Regions from separate parts of the Homo sapiens genome. Here region 2 is linked to region 1. Evidence: fine-mapped expression QTL. A gene starts in region 1. The other region holds a variant in brackets. All regions are shown on one strand. Distances are from middle to middle. Region 1 holds the start of MAP1LC3A (microtubule associated protein 1 light chain 3 alpha). Region 2 overlaps PIGU (phosphatidylinositol glycan anchor biosynthesis class U).

Region 1 (8,329 bases):
TGAAATTGCCAGTATTCAACCATTTTTTTATCTGCAAAACTGGCAATTTCATATGGTCCAACCTAATAACCTAATCTTTTTCTTCCTGCTTCTTGTCCAGATGATTATTGTGTGACATGGAGTTGCTTCGTTTTGATTGTTGTGGATTGTGACTGCACCTGCCCCTCAGCTGACCTGGTTCAGGGATCAGCCTCTGAGCTCAGCCCCTGCTTTGGGCTCCTCCTGCCCAGATGGCATCTCGGGCCTGGGTGAGAAAGGGCTGCAGGGTATGAGGTCAGCCTTTGCTGTGATCACTGCCCCCCAGTGGGCCAGCCTGGAGCTGCCAGCTGGGCAGCTGGGGGCAGGGCCTCGGGGGCTGCCTGAGCTCTGTCTGCTTTGCTGACGCTGTGACCAATCTCGTGCTCATCAGTGATCTGGGCCCCAGGCAGACCACCTTTCTGGGTCCATGGCCATTAGTCCAGTGCTCCAGGTGTAGCCTTAGGCCAACCATTGAACCCTTTGAGTCTCAGTTTCCCCATCTGTTTAAGATGAGGATTGTTCAACCTTCCAGATGGGCTTCTGTGGTGATAGAATGGCAGGTACTTGTCCTGAGGCCATCAGAGCTGCTGGTGACAGGACACCTTCCTGAACTCCTCCAGGCGCCTCTGATCTCTCCTTAGCTGCTGTTGTGTTACCTTCAGGTCAGTGAGAAGCTGCCCAGGACAGGGTCTGGAGGTCTAGATCCCAGGCTTAGCTCAACCTGTCTTGCCCCAAGACCATAGCCAAGTGCTCTGTGCCTCAGTCTCCCCATCTGTGCCAGGTGGTTGGTGCCAATCCTCTGAGGCCTCCAGGTGCCTGAGAGCTGCGGTGTCTGTAGTGTGAGCCCCTGTCCCCTCATCCTTCTCTGAGGCTGGGCCCTGCCCAACCTGCTCCAGGGACCAGTGGTCTTGGGAAGCTTGGGCTGACTGGGATTGCAGACTCCGGGTCTGGTGTATAGGGCCCTTGGCAAATCCCTATTCCTTTCTGGGCCTCCTTGAAGAGACAGTGGGCTGAGCTTCTAGGCTCCCTTTGATTCTTCTGTGTGTGGCCCAGAATGGGACAGACAGACTGAGCTGGGCACAGAAATACCATAGTGACAGAACCATTCGAAGACCCTGCCCTGATGGAGGCCCCGGGCCAGGGGAGGAGGCACAGTCAGGCTGTCAGCTGAATGGAAAATTACACTTTCGATGAGTCTGTTATCGAGTAGAGATTAGTGGGGCCAAGAACTAATCTGGGGGGCAAGTGATCCTTCCTGAGCCCTGAAGAGTAAGCAGCTGTCAACTAGATGAACGGGGAGAGAACATTCCAGGCAGAAGAAACAGTAAAGATCCTGCCGTGGGGTGAGGTGGAGCCGGGAGAGGGCGGACAGGGACCCTAGCAAGGTCTCAGAGCACGAGGGAGTTCGAGCTTTGCCCTAAGGCTTGGGAAGCCTTTGGAGGATTTGAAGGCTGGAAGTAACACCATCAGATGTGGGTTTTGAAAAGCTCCCTCTGGCTGCCAGGGAGAATGGGGTGGGCACGGGTTTGAGAGCAGGGAGCCCAAGGACCAAGCTTTGCTGTTGTTTAGGAGATGAGATGACAGTGGCTCTGTCCAGAGTAGTGACTGTGGGGATGGATCCAAAGGGTGGATTTGAGTTTAGGGGGAATTGACAGGTCATGGTGGCTCGATGTATGAGAGAAGTGTCAGGGCAATTTTGTGGCCTGGGCACCTGGCTGGAAGATGGGGGCATGGATGCTGAGTGGGAGAAGTGTATTTGACAGAGGGAAGGTGAGGAGTTTGATGTGGACCTGGCTGGGATGGAAGTGGCTGTGGGAGGATGGGGCAGAGGCCTCTGGTTGCACAGGCACCAGGCTGGCATTCGAGGCCAGAGCCTGGGATGGAGGTGTAGACCATGGGTGGGGGCAGGGGGAGTCCAGGCAGCTTCTGAGAGGCCAGACCTTGCAGGGTCAATTATGGGCCCTGAGGTGGGGGCCCTGAGGAGGGCCTCTCCAGTGATTGTGATCCAGAGCCAGGCAGGGGCGTTCCTGTCTTCCAACAACACCTGCCAGCAGTTCAGGGATCCTGGGTTTAGGGGGAGGTACCCAGCAGCGCCTCACACCCTCTCTCTCCCCCCAGATCCTGCTCATCTCTGATTACTTCTATGCCTTCCTGCGGCGGGAGTACTACCTCACACATGGCCTCTACTTGACCGCCAAGGATGGCACAGAGGCCATGCTCGTGCTCAAGTAGGCCTGGCTGGCACAGGGCTGCATGGACCTCAGGGGGCTGTGGGGCCAGAAGCTGGGCCAAGCCCTCCAGCCAGAGTTGCCAGCAGGCGAGTGCTTGGGCAGAAGAGGTTCGAGTCCAGGGTCACAAGTCTCTGGTACCAAAAGGGACCCATGGCTGACTGACAGCAAGGCCTATGGGGAAGAACTGGGAGCTCCCCAACTTGGACCCCCACCTTGTGGCTCTGCACACCAAGGAGCCCCCTCCCAGACAGGAAGGAGAAGAGGCAGGTGAGCAGGGCTTGTTAGATTGTGGCTACTTAATAAATGTTTTTTGTTATGAAGTCTACCCTGAGACCACATCTGCATTGCACTCCTAGAGGGGGTGGCCCCTAATAATGTTCTGGAACACTACACACAGGTGTGGGTTTCCAGAGCGAGCACCGCGGCCACAGAACACAAGTCTGTGCGCCAGAGCCCGGGGATGGTGCGGGCAGCCCCACCAGCACCCTCCCCACTCCCAAGCAAGCGGCTGGAGGCACAGGGCCAGGCAGGCCTGAGCAATCTTTATTCTGCAGAGGGACAATGACCACAGATCCATACACCACGTGGAGACCGAGGGGCGGGGAGCCAGGGGCCAGTCTTTCAGGGGTGGGCAGGTCCAGGCGGTGGGCAGAGCCTCGGGTGGGTGAGGGGCAGATGGGCAGACAGGCAGGGGCCTAAAAAAAAGATGAACCACACAGCAGGGGTGCTGGGAGCTGCTCCCCACCCTCCCCCATCCCACCAGCCAGCACCCAGAGGGACAACCCTAACACGACCGGCCCAGGATCCACCCAGGGGCAGAGTAGGTGGGTTGGTGCCCTCTGACTAGGGGGGCACATGCCTGCCCAGCCCACCACGGTAGAGGCAGCTCAGTTCAGGAACCAGGAGCTCTCTGGGCAGGGCCTGACCGGGGCCGCCCGACTCCCAGGCCGAGCCCCCCTACTGCTGGCTCAGAAGCCGAAGGTTTCCTGGGAGGCGTAGACCATATAGAGGAAGCCGTCCTCGTCTTTCTCCTGCTCGTAGATGTCCGCGATGGGCGTGGACACACTCACCATGCTGTGCTGGTTCACCAGCAGGAAGAAGGCCTGCGTGGGGTTCAGCTGCAGGCGGCGCCTGCAGCCGGCGGGAGAGTATGCAGCTGTGAGGGGCTTGGCTGCGGGACGGACATAGCCCTGACCCCCAGAATGATTCCCAGCCTTTCACACCCATTCTCACCCCAGCTGTCACCTCTGACCCAACACCGACTGCAGCCCCGACCTTGACCTTTCCAGCCACCCCAGAACAGGGGCCCACCGCCCGGTCCCATCACCCCTGACCCCACTCCCACCCCTTCTCGGCGGGAACCCGGCTCCCCTCCCGACCCTAGCCACCTCCTGGCGGCGGCTGCCCACGCACCGGATGATCTTGACCAACTCGCTCATGTTGACATGGTCCGGGACCAAAAACTTGGTCTTGTCCAGGACGGGCAGCTGCTTCTCACCCTTGTAGCGCTCGATGATCACCTGGGAGCAGGGCGGGCGGGCAGGGGGTCGTGTCGGGAACGCGCGAGGCGGGGGCGGGGCAGGGCTGGGGGTGCGGGACTCACCGGGATTTTGCTGGGGTGCTGGTCGCGGATCTGCTGTACCTCCTTACAGCGGTCGGCTGCGGACAGCGGCCAGACCGTGAGGCCGGGTCGGGCCGGCCCAGGTCCGCCCCGCCTGTCCCGGAGGGGCGGCCCCCGGCCACGCCCCAGCTCCAGCCCCCACCCCCGGGGCCATCAGGCCCCACAGCCCCTGGCACCTATCGCGGTGGGGAAGCGGGCAGCCCCCGCCCAGGCCGGAGCTGGTCCCAGCCCGAGGGTCCAGCCAGAGCCTGACGTCACGGGGCTGACGTCACCTGCGGCAGTCGGGGTCGGCCGGCACCCCTGCCCCAGAGCTCGCAGCTCGCCTGCCGGGCCTCACCGAAGCTCCGCCGCTGCTTGAAAGGCCGGTCTGAGGGCATCGCGCGGGCCCGGCTGGGCGCGCAGGCCGGGGCTCTGGGGCGCGGGGATGTGTCTGCGGTTTGGGGGCTCCGGGGGCTCCGCGCCTCGCGCTCAAGGGCTCCGGGGCTCGCGCTGAGCACGGCGGCTGCGGCTGCGGGAGGTAACTCGCCCGGTGACGTCAGGTCACAACATTCCTTAAAGGGGAGGCCAGTGCGCCGCTCCCATTGGGCCGACGCACAACCCGCCCGCCCGGACCCGTGACGTCACGGCGCAGAGAGCCTGGGTCCGCGGACCGGGACGCGAGGGGCGGGGCTTCTGGGCGCGTCACAGTCCCGTGACGTCATGGGCAGCGCGGGAGCTTCTCCCGCAGCCCGAACTCAAGGTAAGGCCCGGAGGGCGGTGGGGCCGCCCTAGGCCGATGGAGCGGGCGGGCCAGGCTGCAGCCCCACGGCACCACTTCCCGCCCTCACCGAGTCTGTGTCAGGACTGACGCGGTTCTGGGCGCCGTGGGAAACAGCCGGAGCCAAAGGCCCGGCGCCTTCACGGGGCTTAGGGCGAGAGAAGGGAGAAGGTGCGGGAGGCACAGTCAGACACAGGATAGAACAGGATGCTAGAAATGAACGCCCAGGTTTGAAAAAGAATAATATAATTGAAAAGTAGAGCCATCGAAATTCAGGTCTCAGAGGATGAGGTGAGAAGGCAGAAAAGGACAACAGAAGAGAAATCGTGGACCTGGAGGCTGATCGGAAGCAGCTCACCAGAGAGACAGGTGATGGGGAATAAGGAAAAGGGCACAGATGGCAACGCCAGGAGAACTCGCGGGCCCGAGCAGAGCTCCAGAGGCGAACACTGAAAGACCTGCAGAGACAGTTCCTGAAAAAGAGCTGCCAGAAATGATGCTTAAAATCCAGAGCAGAATGCGCAGACTGAAGATCAACATTTTTTTGGGGGAGGGGGGAGGGGGACGAAGTCTCGTTCTGTCGCCAGGCTGGGGTGCAGTGGTGCGATCTCAGCTCACTGCAACCTCTGCCTCCCGGGTTCAAGCGATTCTCCTGCCTCAGTCAGCCTCCTCAGTAGCTGGGATTACAGGCGCCTGCCACCACCCCCAGCTAATTATTGTATTTTTAGTAGAGATGGAGTTTCACCATGTTGGCCAGGATGGTCTCGATCTCCTGACCTCGTGATCCACTCGCCTCGGCCTCCCAAAGTGCTGGGATTACAGGTGTGAGCCACCACGCCTGGCCGCCGAAATAATTTTTAAAGAATGTAGTTTAGTAACAAGGACATGGAACCCAAAAGGAAGAAATTAGATGGAAAAATGGTGAGCAAATTGGTAAACATGTGAATCTAAACAAGCATTTAATATGCAATATGAATAATAATGATTAATTTGTGGGCCACAGAAACAAGATGCATGAGACACAAGAACATGGAAGACTGAGAGGGCAATTTGAGAGGGGGTTAAAGAGACTGAGCATTGTCTGGCTTTGTAAAGTCAGGTGTGTATTTCAGATATTTAAGAGGATCACCAAAAGAATACAAACGGAACTATAACTGCCAATGCAGAGAAAAGGGTAGTGATGGGTATTAAAACTATAATGGAAGGCAGAAAGGGAGAAAAAGGAAGCAAAGTAAAAGGGATGGTAAATATATAGTACAAAACCAGAGGTAGAAAATGTGGTTTACATTCACCTCTTAAAACACAGATGACCAGATTGGCCAAGAAAAAATAAGATGCAGCTCTATGCTATTTACAAGAGGAAATTTAAAACCTAAGGGCACCAAAAAGTAAAACGATGGGAAAAGGTGTACTAGAGAAAAACTAACCAAAAGATGTACCTATAGAAAACTCAGACAAAATAGGCCTTCAGGCAGAAGACACTGGGGATAAGAGGATCAACATGAAATGATGCGAGGAGGAACTCTGTGAAGAGAGGAAAGTTCTGAACTTCTATGTTCCAGGGTTTTTGTTTTTAAGGCTGAAAATAGGCCAGGCGCAGTGGCTCATGCCAGTAATCCCAGCACTTTGGGAGGCCGAGGTGGGTGGATCACTAGAGGCTGGGAATTCAAGACCAGCCTGGCCAACATGGCAAAACTCTGTCTCTACTAAAAATACAAAGATTAGCTAGCTGGGCGTGGTGGTGCACGCCTGTCATCCCAACTACTCAGGTGGCTGAGGCACAAGAATTGCTTGAACCTGCTAGGCGGAGGTTGCAGTGAGCTGAGATTGCGCCACTGCCCTCCAGCCTGGGCAACAGAGTGAGACTCTGTCTCGAAAAAAAAAAAAAAGAGGCTGAAAATATATTAAGAACACAAGGAGAAATTGCCAGGTCCTCCATCATAGGGAGACATAAGACCTCTTTGAGTAACTAATAAACCAAACAACCAAAAAAAAAAGGACATAGAGGATGTTAATACAGTTACTAATCAAGATCAATGAACCCCAATAGAAAACCTGACAGTTAGTTTTTTAACTTTTAAAATTTAAATTTCAGACCTGTGTGAGACCAACACATTATTTTCAATCACACAAGGAACATTTACAAAAATGACCCAACTACTAGGGTGCACGACAAATCTCAACAGATATCAAATCAGTTTCAACCATATTCTTTGGCCACAGACAAAAGCCGCGTAAGCTCCAGCTGTGTGGAAATTTAAACCTATTCTAAATATGAAGTCATATATAAATAAAAATTATTTAGTTCAAACAAAAAATGAGGATACATATGCTAAGAAAACTTGGTGGCCGGGCGCAGTGGCTCACGCCTGTAATCCCAGCACTTTGGGAGGCCAAGGCAGGCGGATCACGAGGTCAGGAGATCGAGACCATCCTGGCTAACATGGTGAAACCCCGTCTCTACTAAAAATACAAAAAATTAGCTGGGCGTGGTGGCGGGCGCCTGTAGTTCCAGCTACTCGGGAGGCTGAGGCAGGAGAATGGCTCGAACCTGGGAGGCGGAGCTTGCAGTAAATGGAGATCGCGCCACTGCACTCCAGCCTGGGCGACAGAGCGAGACTCCATCAAAAAAAAAAAAAAAAGAAAGAAAACTTGGGAGGGGGGCCATGGCAGGCCAGGTGTGGTGGTTCATACCTGTAATCCCAGCACTTTGGGGGGCCCAGACTGGAGAATTGCTTGAGCCCAAGAGTTCAAGGCTGCAGTGAGCTGTGATTGCAGCTCTGCATTCCAGCCTCGGTGACAAAATAAGATCCATTTCTTTAAAAAAAAAAAAAATCAGATTTATAGCCTTATTACATAGATGTATTACTTAGATAATAAATACAGAAAATCCATGAGCAGAGTTTCAAAGAAATTTAAGAAGGAGTAATAGTGTAATCCTAGCACTTTGGGAGGCCCAGGTTGGAAAATCATTTGAGCCCAGAAGTTTGAGACCAGCCTGGGCCACATAGTGAGACCCCGTCTCTACAAAAATGAGAAAATTAGGCCAGGCACAGTGGCTCACGCCTGTAATCCCAACACTTTGGGAGGCTGAGGTGGGCAGATCACTTGAGGCCAGGAGTTCGAGACCAGCCTGGCCAACATGGCAAAACCCTGTCTCTACTAAAAATACAGAAGTTAGCTGGGTGTGGTGGTGCATTCTGTAATCTCAGCTACTTGGGAGGCTGAGGCACAAGAATTGCTTGAATCCGGGAGGCAGAGGTTTCAGTGAGCCAAGATCATGCCACTGCACTCCAGCCTGCGTGACAAGAGTGAGACTCTGTCTCAAAAAAAAAAAAAAATAAGAAAATTCGCTGGCTTTGGTGGCACACACCTATAGTCCCAACTACTCAGGAAGGATCGTTTGAGTGACAGAGGCCCTTTCTCAGAAAAACAACAAAAAATGCTGAAAACAAACAAAAAACAACAACAACAAAAAATAGGCCAGGTGTGGTGGCCCACACCTGTAATCACAGCACTTGGGGAGGCCAAGGCAGGCAGATCACTTGAGTCCAGGAGTTGTAGACCAGCCTGGGCAATATGGTGAAACCCCATCTCTACAAAAAAAAAAAATACAAAAAATACAAAATACAAAAATTACAAAATACAAAAAAATTAGCTGGGTATGGTGGCACGTGTCTGTAGTCCAGCTACGTGGGAGGC
Region 2 (8,329 bases), 53 kb before region 1:
CTGAAACTGCATTTGGTACTGAACCCTACGTATACTATGTTTTTTCTGTCGAATAACTGAGACAACTACTAAGTGACTAACAGGCAGGGATACACTAGACAAAGGGGTGATTCATGTCTCGAGTGGGACAGAGCAGGACGGCGTGAGATTTCATCACACTACTCAGAATGGTGTACAATTTAAAACTTATGAATTGTTTGTTTCTGGAATTTTCCATTTAAGGACCACAGTTGACAACAGGTAACTGAAACCATGAAAAGTGAAACCTCAGATAAGGGGGGCACTACTATATGCATATCCTTGGGAATGTATAAGTGCATTTTATTTTACATATTTGCAAACGCAACTATCTTGCAGTTTTCTTTTCTCAACTAGTGATCCCCTCTGAGCTCATTTCTTTAACTTTTCTTTATAATAACACTCACCTTGTAAGATTCTTATAGGACTTAAATGGAGTATGTGCATCTGAAACAATGCTTGGAACATAGTGGCTGATCAATAAACATTAATTGAAGAATGCAAATTGCTGACATTTACTGAGAATGGATTACATGTCAGGCACCATGCTAAGCACTCTGTAGGCATCGTCTCATTTTAACCTCATAAGAACTTTATGGAGTAGGTCATATTATTAGCCAAATATTAGTCTAGTGTTAGCCATATTAGACAAATGAATTGAAACTAGAATGTTGGGAGGTTAAGTCACTTAAGGTCACAGGACCAGCGAATGACATTGCTAAGATATGAACCATGGCCATCTGATGCCAGAGCGTGCTCTCTAATCATCTTGTTCTACTCAAATGAGAATAGTACATACATGTTTCTTCAAGAGGAAGTAACTGCATGCAGGCCCCACATGGTCCAAATCCATTCTTACAAGATAAATGTTTCTTGAAAGTGTACAGGTGGCAGTGCCAGAAATGTCTGATTTCAGAGCCTTTCTTAATCACAAGCACTGCTAAAGCTGAGTGTGTATTCCATTTATTGAAATAGGCCATATGCATGTTATTTTAAGTGATTTTATAATATTGTGTTGATGCAGACAATGATTCATGGTTTGCTTGATCTTTTTCTTATTTGGGGAATTTGAGATATGTCTTTATTTATGTTTGAGATATGTCATTTATATTGTCACTAATATAAATAACGTAGAAATTTTTTTTTTTTTTTTTTGAGAGCAGGTCCTTGCTCTGTCACCCAGGCTGGAGTGCAGTGGCACAATCTCAGCTCACTGCAGCCTCCATCTCCCAGGCTCAATCGATCGTCTCACCTTAGTCTCCTGAGTAACTGGGACTACAGGTGTGTGCCACCACACCCGGCTAATTTTTTGTAGAGATGGGGTTTCGCCATGTTGCCCAGACTGGTCTCGAATTCTTGGGTTCACGCAATCCATCCACCCACCCACTTTGGTCTCCCAAAGTGCTAGGTTTATAGGAATGAGCCACTTCACCCAGCCAGAAATTTGTTTTTATTTGTTTTCTTTTTCTTTTTCTTATTTTTGAGACAGTGTCTCACTCTGTTGCCCAGGATGGGATGTGCAGTGCCGCAGTCACGGTTCACTGCACCCTCAACCTCCCGGGCACAAGCAATCCTTTCACCTCACCCTCCCAAGTAACTGGGACTGCAGGCATGCACCACCACACCCAGCTAATTTTTGTATTTTTTTGTAGAGACAGGGCTTTGCCATGTTGCTCAGGCTGCTCTCAAACTCCTAGGTTCAAGCGATCCTTCTGCCTTGGCCTCCCAAAGTGCTGGGATTACAGGTGTGAGCCACTGTGCCCAGCTTGAAATTATTTTCTTCAAGTATGTTGCTTTAGCTAAATCACTGGACCCAAGGTGAAAAGTCGTATTGTTCTTATTAGGCAATTATACCAGATTGTTCACCAGAAAGCCTGAGCCAGTTTGCAGTGCCACCATCAGTATCTAAAGAGAAGTGGACCACTTACCTCCTCATCTGCCAGCACTGACTTTTCAAGTTTGATTTATGATTGCCAGTTCAGTAGATGTGTCACCATACAGTGAAGTTATTTTGCTTTGATTTTCTTTCTGTATTCTTGCTGAGTTGAAGCATTTTTCCACATAACAATGTGCTGCTTGTATTTTCTTTTTTATTTCCTATTTATGGCTTATTCTTTAGAAAGTCTAAGCACTAAGAATATATATAGCCAGACTTTTTATACAACTATGTATCAAATAAATAATATAGTATATTCATACACATGGATGGACCAGAAATTTAAAAATGGTTTCTGAGCTTGTCCAACCTGCAAAAAATGAATAAGTAAATAAAAGAAGATAAAAATGGTTTCTTAAGCCAATCTCTATGCACCACTTTATATAAAACAACTTTTGTTTAAAACTAAAGGAAATTTCCTCCTGACACTAGTGGACAGTACAACTGACTCATTAAGTCAAGCAGCTCCTCTACCAATATTTACTAAGTACCTATAGTGTGCTAGATACTATGCCAGACTGCAGACATAAAGCAATTGAAGGATGCTGAGCAGGTGAGTGCTCCAGGAAGATTGCTTTGGCAGCAGCTTGTCGGGTAGATGGGAGTAGGAAGAGCTGAAGTTGGGAAAGCTTAGAACATTGTACTAGATCAAGTCAGAGGGGTAAACTGGGGGCCCAAACCAGTGTCAGAGGAGATGGAGAGATGAGAGACTAGATGCAGGGGAATTCTAGGAGGTAGAATTGGCTGTGCTTGGTAACCGTCTGTATGTGGGGGACAGGAGCGGAAGGAGTTTGAGATGAACTTCAGGATCCCATTTATGCAGAAATTAAAACTCCATTTCCTACTATATTTGTATATTTTTTATAAATATATGAAGTAGCCTGGTGTATTAGTCCATTCTTACGCTGCTATGAACTGCCTGAGCCAGGCGTGGTAGCTTACACCTGTAATCTCAGTACTTTGGGAGGCTGAGGCAAGTGGACCACTTGAGGTCAGGAGTTTGAGACCAGCCTGGCCAACATGACGAAACCTTGTCTCTACTAAAACTACAAAAATTAGCCAGACATGGGGGAGTGTTCCTGTAATTCCAGCTACTCGGGAGGCAGAGGCAGGAACATTGCTTGAACCCGAGAGGCAGAGGTTGCAGGAGCCTAGATCGCACCACCGCATTCCAGCCTGGGTGATGAAGTGACACTCTGTCTCAAAAAAAGAAAAAAAAAAAAAAGAAAAGGAAAGAAAAAGAACTGCCCGAGACTTGGTTATTTATTTATTTATTTGTTTTTGCTGATGGTACATGAAATAATTTTTTTTTAAATTTTACTTTAAGTTCTGGAATACATGTGCTGAATGCGCAGGTTTGTTACATAGGTATAACAAACCTATGTAATGTGCCATGGTGTGCTGCACGTATCAACCCATCATCTAGGTTTTAAGCCCCACATGCATTAGGTATTTGTCCTAACGCTCTCCCACACCTTGTCCCCCACCCCATGACAGGCCCCAGTGTGTGATGTTCACCTCCCTGTGTCCATGTGTTCCCATTGTTCAACTCCCACTTATGAGTAAGAACATGCGATGTTTGGTTTTCGGTTCCTGTGTTAGTTTGCTAAGGATGATGGTTTCCAGCTTCATCCATGTCCCTGCAAAGGACGTGAACTCCTTTTTTATGGCTGCATAGTATTCCATGGTGTATATATGCCACATTTTCTTTATCCAGTCTCATTGCTGGGCATTTGGGTTGGTTCTAAGTCTTTGCTATTGTAAGTAGTGCTGCAGTAAACATACGTGTGCATATATCTTTATAGTAGAATGCTTTATAATCCTTTGGGTATATATCCAGTAATGGGATTGCTGGGTCAAATGGTATTTCTGGCTCTAATCCTTGAGGAATCGCCACACTGTCTTCCACAATGGTTGAACTAATTTACATTCCCACCAAAAATGTAAAAGCATTCCTATTTTTCCGCATCCTTGCCAGCATCTGTTTTTCCAGACTTTAATGATCGCCATTCCAGCTGGCGTGAGATGGTATCTTATTGTGGTTTTGATTTGCATGTCTCTAATGACCAGTGATGATGAGCTTTTTTCATGTTTCTTGGCCACATAAATCTCTTCTTTTGAGAAGTGTCTGTTCATATCCTTTGCCCACTTTTTGATGTTTGGTTTTTTTTTTTTTGTCTTTTTTTTTTTTTTTTTCTGAGACTTGAGTCTTGCTCTGTTGCCCAGGCTGGAGTGCAGTGACACAATCTCAGCTCACTGCAACCTCTGCCTCCCAGGTTCAAGCGATTCTCCTGCCTCAGCCTCCCAAGTAGCTGGGACTGCAGGCACGTGCCACCATGCCTGGCTCATTTTTTGTATTTTTAGTAGAGACGGGGTTTCACCATGTTAGCCAGGATGGTCTCAATCTCCTGACCTCATGATCTGCCTGCCTCAGCCTCCCAAAGTGCTGAGATTACAGGCATAAGCCACCGCACCTGGCCTGTTTTTTTTCTTGTAAATTTAAGTTCCTTGTAGATTCTGGATATTAGACCTTTGTCAGATGGATAGATTGCAAAAATTTTCTCCCATTCTGTAGGTTGCCTGTTCACTCTGATGATAGTTTCTTTTGCTGTGCAGAAGCTCTTTAGTTTAATTAGATCCCATTTGTCAATTTTGGCTTTCGTTGCAATTGCTTTTGGTGTTTTAGTCATGAAGTCTTTGCCCATGCCTATGTCCTGAATGGTACTGCCTAGGTTTTCTTCTAGGGTTTATGGTTTTAGGTTTTACGTATAAGTCTTTAATCCATCTGGAGTTAATTTTTGTATAAGGTGTAACAAAGGGGTCCAGTTTCTGTTTTCTGCGTATGGCTAGCCAGTTTCCCCAGCACCATTTATTAAATAGGGAATCCTTTCCCCATTGCTTGTTTTTGTCAGGTTTATCAAAGATCAGGTGGTTGTAGATGTGTGGTATTATTTCTGAGGCCTCTGTTCTGTTCCATTGGTCTATATCTCTGTTTTGGTAGCAGTAGCATGCTGTTTTGGGTGCTGTAGCCTTGCAGTATCGTTTGAAGTCAGGTAGCTTGTTGCCTCCAACTTTGTTCTTTTTGCTTAGGATTGTCTTGGCTACACAGGCTCTTTTGGGGTTCCATATGAAATTTAAAGTAGTTTTTTCTAGTTCTGTGAAGAAAGTCAATGGTAGCTTGATGGGAATAGCATTGAATCTATAAATTACTTTGGGCAGTATGACCATTTTCATGATATTGATTCTTCCTATCCATGA[A/G]CAAGGAATTTTTTTCCATTTGTTTGTGTCCTCTCTTATTTCCTTGAGCAGTGGTTTGCAGTCCTCCTTGAAGAGGTCCTTCACATCCCTTGTAAGTTGTATTCTTAGATATTTTATTCTCATTGTAGCAATTGTGAATGGGCGTTCACTCATGATTTGGCGCTTTGCTTGTCTATAATTGGTATATAGGAATGCTTGTGATTTTTGCACATTGATTTTGTATCCTGAGACTTTGTTGAAGTTGTTTATGAGCTTAAGGAGTTTTTGGGCTGAGACGGTGGGGTTTTCTAAATATACACTCATGTCATCTGCAAACAGAGACAATTTGACTTCCTCTTTTCCTATTTGAATACGCTTTATTTCTTTCTCTTGCCTGATTGCTCTGGCCAGAACTTCTAATACTATGTTGAATAGGAGTGGTAAGAGAGGGCATCCTTGTCTTGTGCCAGTTTTCAAAGGGAATGCTTCCAGCTTTTGTCCATTCAGTATGATATTGAGACTTGGTAATTTACAAAGGAAAGAGGTTTAATTGACTCACAGTTCCACATGGCTGGGGAGGCCTCAGGAAACTTACAAATATAGCCGAAGGGGAAGCAAACACGTCCACCTTCACATGATGGCAGGAAGGAGAGGTGCCAAGCAAAGAGGGAAAAGACCCTTATAAAACCATCAGATCCTGTGAGAACTCACTCACTATCAGGAGAACAGCAGCATTGGGGGTAACCATCCCCATGATTCAATTACCTCCCACCGGGTCCCTCTCATGACATGAGGGGATTATGGGAACAACAATTCAAGATGAGATTTGAATGGGGACACAGCCAAATTATATCACCTGGGCCTTGTGGGTCATGGTAGGGTATTTGAAGATCAGTGTAGTCACATCCAGGAAACAAAACCATCTGTTTAAATATGAAGGAGGAGCCAGGTGTAATGGCTCATGTCTGTAATCCCAGCACTTTGGGAGGCCAAGGTGGGTGGATCACCTGAGGTTAGGAGTTCGAGACAAGCCTGGCCAACATAGTGAAACCGCGTCTCTACTAAAAGTACAAAAATTAGCTAGGCATGGTGACATGTGCCTGCAGTCCTAGCTACTCAGGAGGCTGAGGCAAGAGAATTGCTTGAACGCGGAAGGTGGAGGTTGCAGTGAGCCGAGATTGCGCCACTGCACTCAAGCCTGGGTGACAGAGTGAGACTCTATCTCAAAAACAAAAAAAAAACAAAAAAGGTGAAAAAAAGTGAAGGTGGAAACAGAAGAGGAAATATTCTTTTTTGTTTTGTAACAGGGTCTTACTCTGTCAACTAGGTTGGAGTGCAGTGCTGTGAACATGGCTCACTGCAGCCTAGACCTCCTGGGTTCAAGCAGTCCCCCTGCCTCAGCCTACTGAGTAGCTGGGACTACAGTCATGTGCCACCATGGCTGGCTTGTTTTTTGTTTTTTGTTTGTTTGGTTGGTTGGTTGGTTTTTTTTTAGAGACAGGGTCTCACTTTGTTGCCCGGGCTGGTCTTGAATTCTTGAGCTACAGCAATCCTCCCGCCTCAGCCTCCCAAAGTGCTGGGATTAGGCTGAGCCACCACAACCAGCCTAAAATTATTCTTTAGGGCTGAGTTTCTGCCAGACTACTAAGTGGACCCTTTAGAGTTGAGTTTCACAGGGATCCATAGGCTCCAAGGAGAGAAGCTAGAACTAATGGTTAGGTGGTACAAGAAGCTTAGTATAAGGTAGTTCTGTGACAGAATGAGATGTCCTAAGTGAGGTCAGTTCCCTGTGAATCATGGTGTTTAGGCCAGAGGCTGAATGGCCACTTGCTGGGGAGTTGTAGCAAAGCTGTAAGTGCCAGAGTGAGTGGCTGTACCCTGATCGGCTTCAGAATGCTTTCTACTTCCAAATCAAAATGGATTTGATAACCTCTAGGAGCTGACACATCTGCTCTTGACATTATCTTTTTCTCTGAGTTTTTTTCAAGCCCTCTGTAGGCATAGCCCTCTAGGAAAGGTTGTCTAATGTAGTATGTAAGAGCACAGCTTGACTGGGACATCTTGTTACAACAACAAAAAAAAGCAAAATAGTCCTCAAAGTCTTAACAGGACTAAGTCAGAAAAACACTGGTACCAGCTGAAAGGGGCTCATACCACCCAAATTTGGGAATTTCTGAGCATCAAAAGAATGACAACAAGTAATTATAAAACACTGGATAAAAATCCATGTGTTTGGCTGGGCACGGTGGCTCACGCCTATATTCCCAGCACTTTGGGAGGCCAAGGCAGGTGGATCACTTGAAGTCAGTAGTTCCAGACCAGCCTGGACAACATGGTGAAACTCCTTCTCTACTGAAAATACAAAATGAGCCAGGCATGGTGGTGGGTGCCTGTAATGCCAGCTACTTGGGAGGCTGAGGCACGAGAATCGCTTGAACCTGGGAGGCAGAGGTTGCAGTGAGCCGAGATCGCACCACTGCACTCCAGCCTGGGCCACAGTGCAAGATTCTTGTCTCAAAAAAAAAAAAAAAAAAAAGTCATGTCTCCATAGTGATGCTCACTAAAAGGGCAAGAAGAGAAAAAATACATAGACCATCATCAGATGTGGCTATTTTACCAGTTTCTCACTCTGAAAGTAAATAATTAAAAGGAAAGAACTAAGCAATTACTCTGCCTTTTAAAAAGGAATTATAGCTGGGTGCAGTGGCTCACACCTATAGTCCCAGCACTTAGGGAGGCTGAGGCAGGAGGATCACTTGATCCCAGGAGTTTAAGACCAGTCTGGGCACAACTCTGTGCAGTCCCATGGCACAGACTCTGTGCACAACTCTGTGCAGTCCCACAGCAATGTCTAGTGGGGTACTCATGATCCCTGGAGCCACAGAAGTTGTTTGTTACACTGTGCTCTTTCAGCTTTGCCATCCTCTGATGGCTTAAGCATTTCACATCTCAGTATGACAGCCCTCTGTATCCCAACCTCTTGTTTGGCATCCAGGAGGTATCAGGTTGCACAAATGAATTGGAGATGGTAAATGCAGGGGATTTTATTGCTGATGAAAGTGGCTGTCAATGGGATGGAGAGCTGGAAAGGGGATGGAGCAGGAAGGTGGTCTTCCCCTCAGTTCGGTCATTCCTGGC

Evidence for each region. PIP is the estimated chance that this variant, and not a neighbour inherited with it, causes the effect.
Region 2: its variant is fine-mapped to the expression of MAP1LC3A in whole blood (INTERVAL, PIP above 0.99).

What each region holds. Positions count from the first base shown.
Region 1 is chr20:34,554,787-34,563,115 of GRCh38, reverse strand. It overlaps MAP1LC3A (microtubule associated protein 1 light chain 3 alpha), which reads right to left and starts at 4,398. Exons shown (of 4, transcript NM_032514.4): 1 at 4,208-4,398; 2 at 3,853-3,908; 3 at 3,663-3,769; 4 at 2,771-3,380. The coding sequence starts at 4,247. The coding sequence ends at 3,218. PIGU (phosphatidylinositol glycan anchor biosynthesis class U) reads left to right here. Exons shown (of 12, transcript NM_080476.5): 12 at 2,137-2,574. The coding sequence ends at 2,250. RefSeq lists silencers at 2,593-2,642, 4,217-4,266, 4,607-4,696.
Region 2 is chr20:34,607,470-34,615,798 of GRCh38, reverse strand. All of the region lies in intron 7 of PIGU (phosphatidylinositol glycan anchor biosynthesis class U), which reads left to right. Among named protein-coding and RNA genes, the nearest start is that of MAP1LC3A, 53 kb to the right of the region's middle. The variant A/G (reference allele first, on the strand shown) is at 5,213.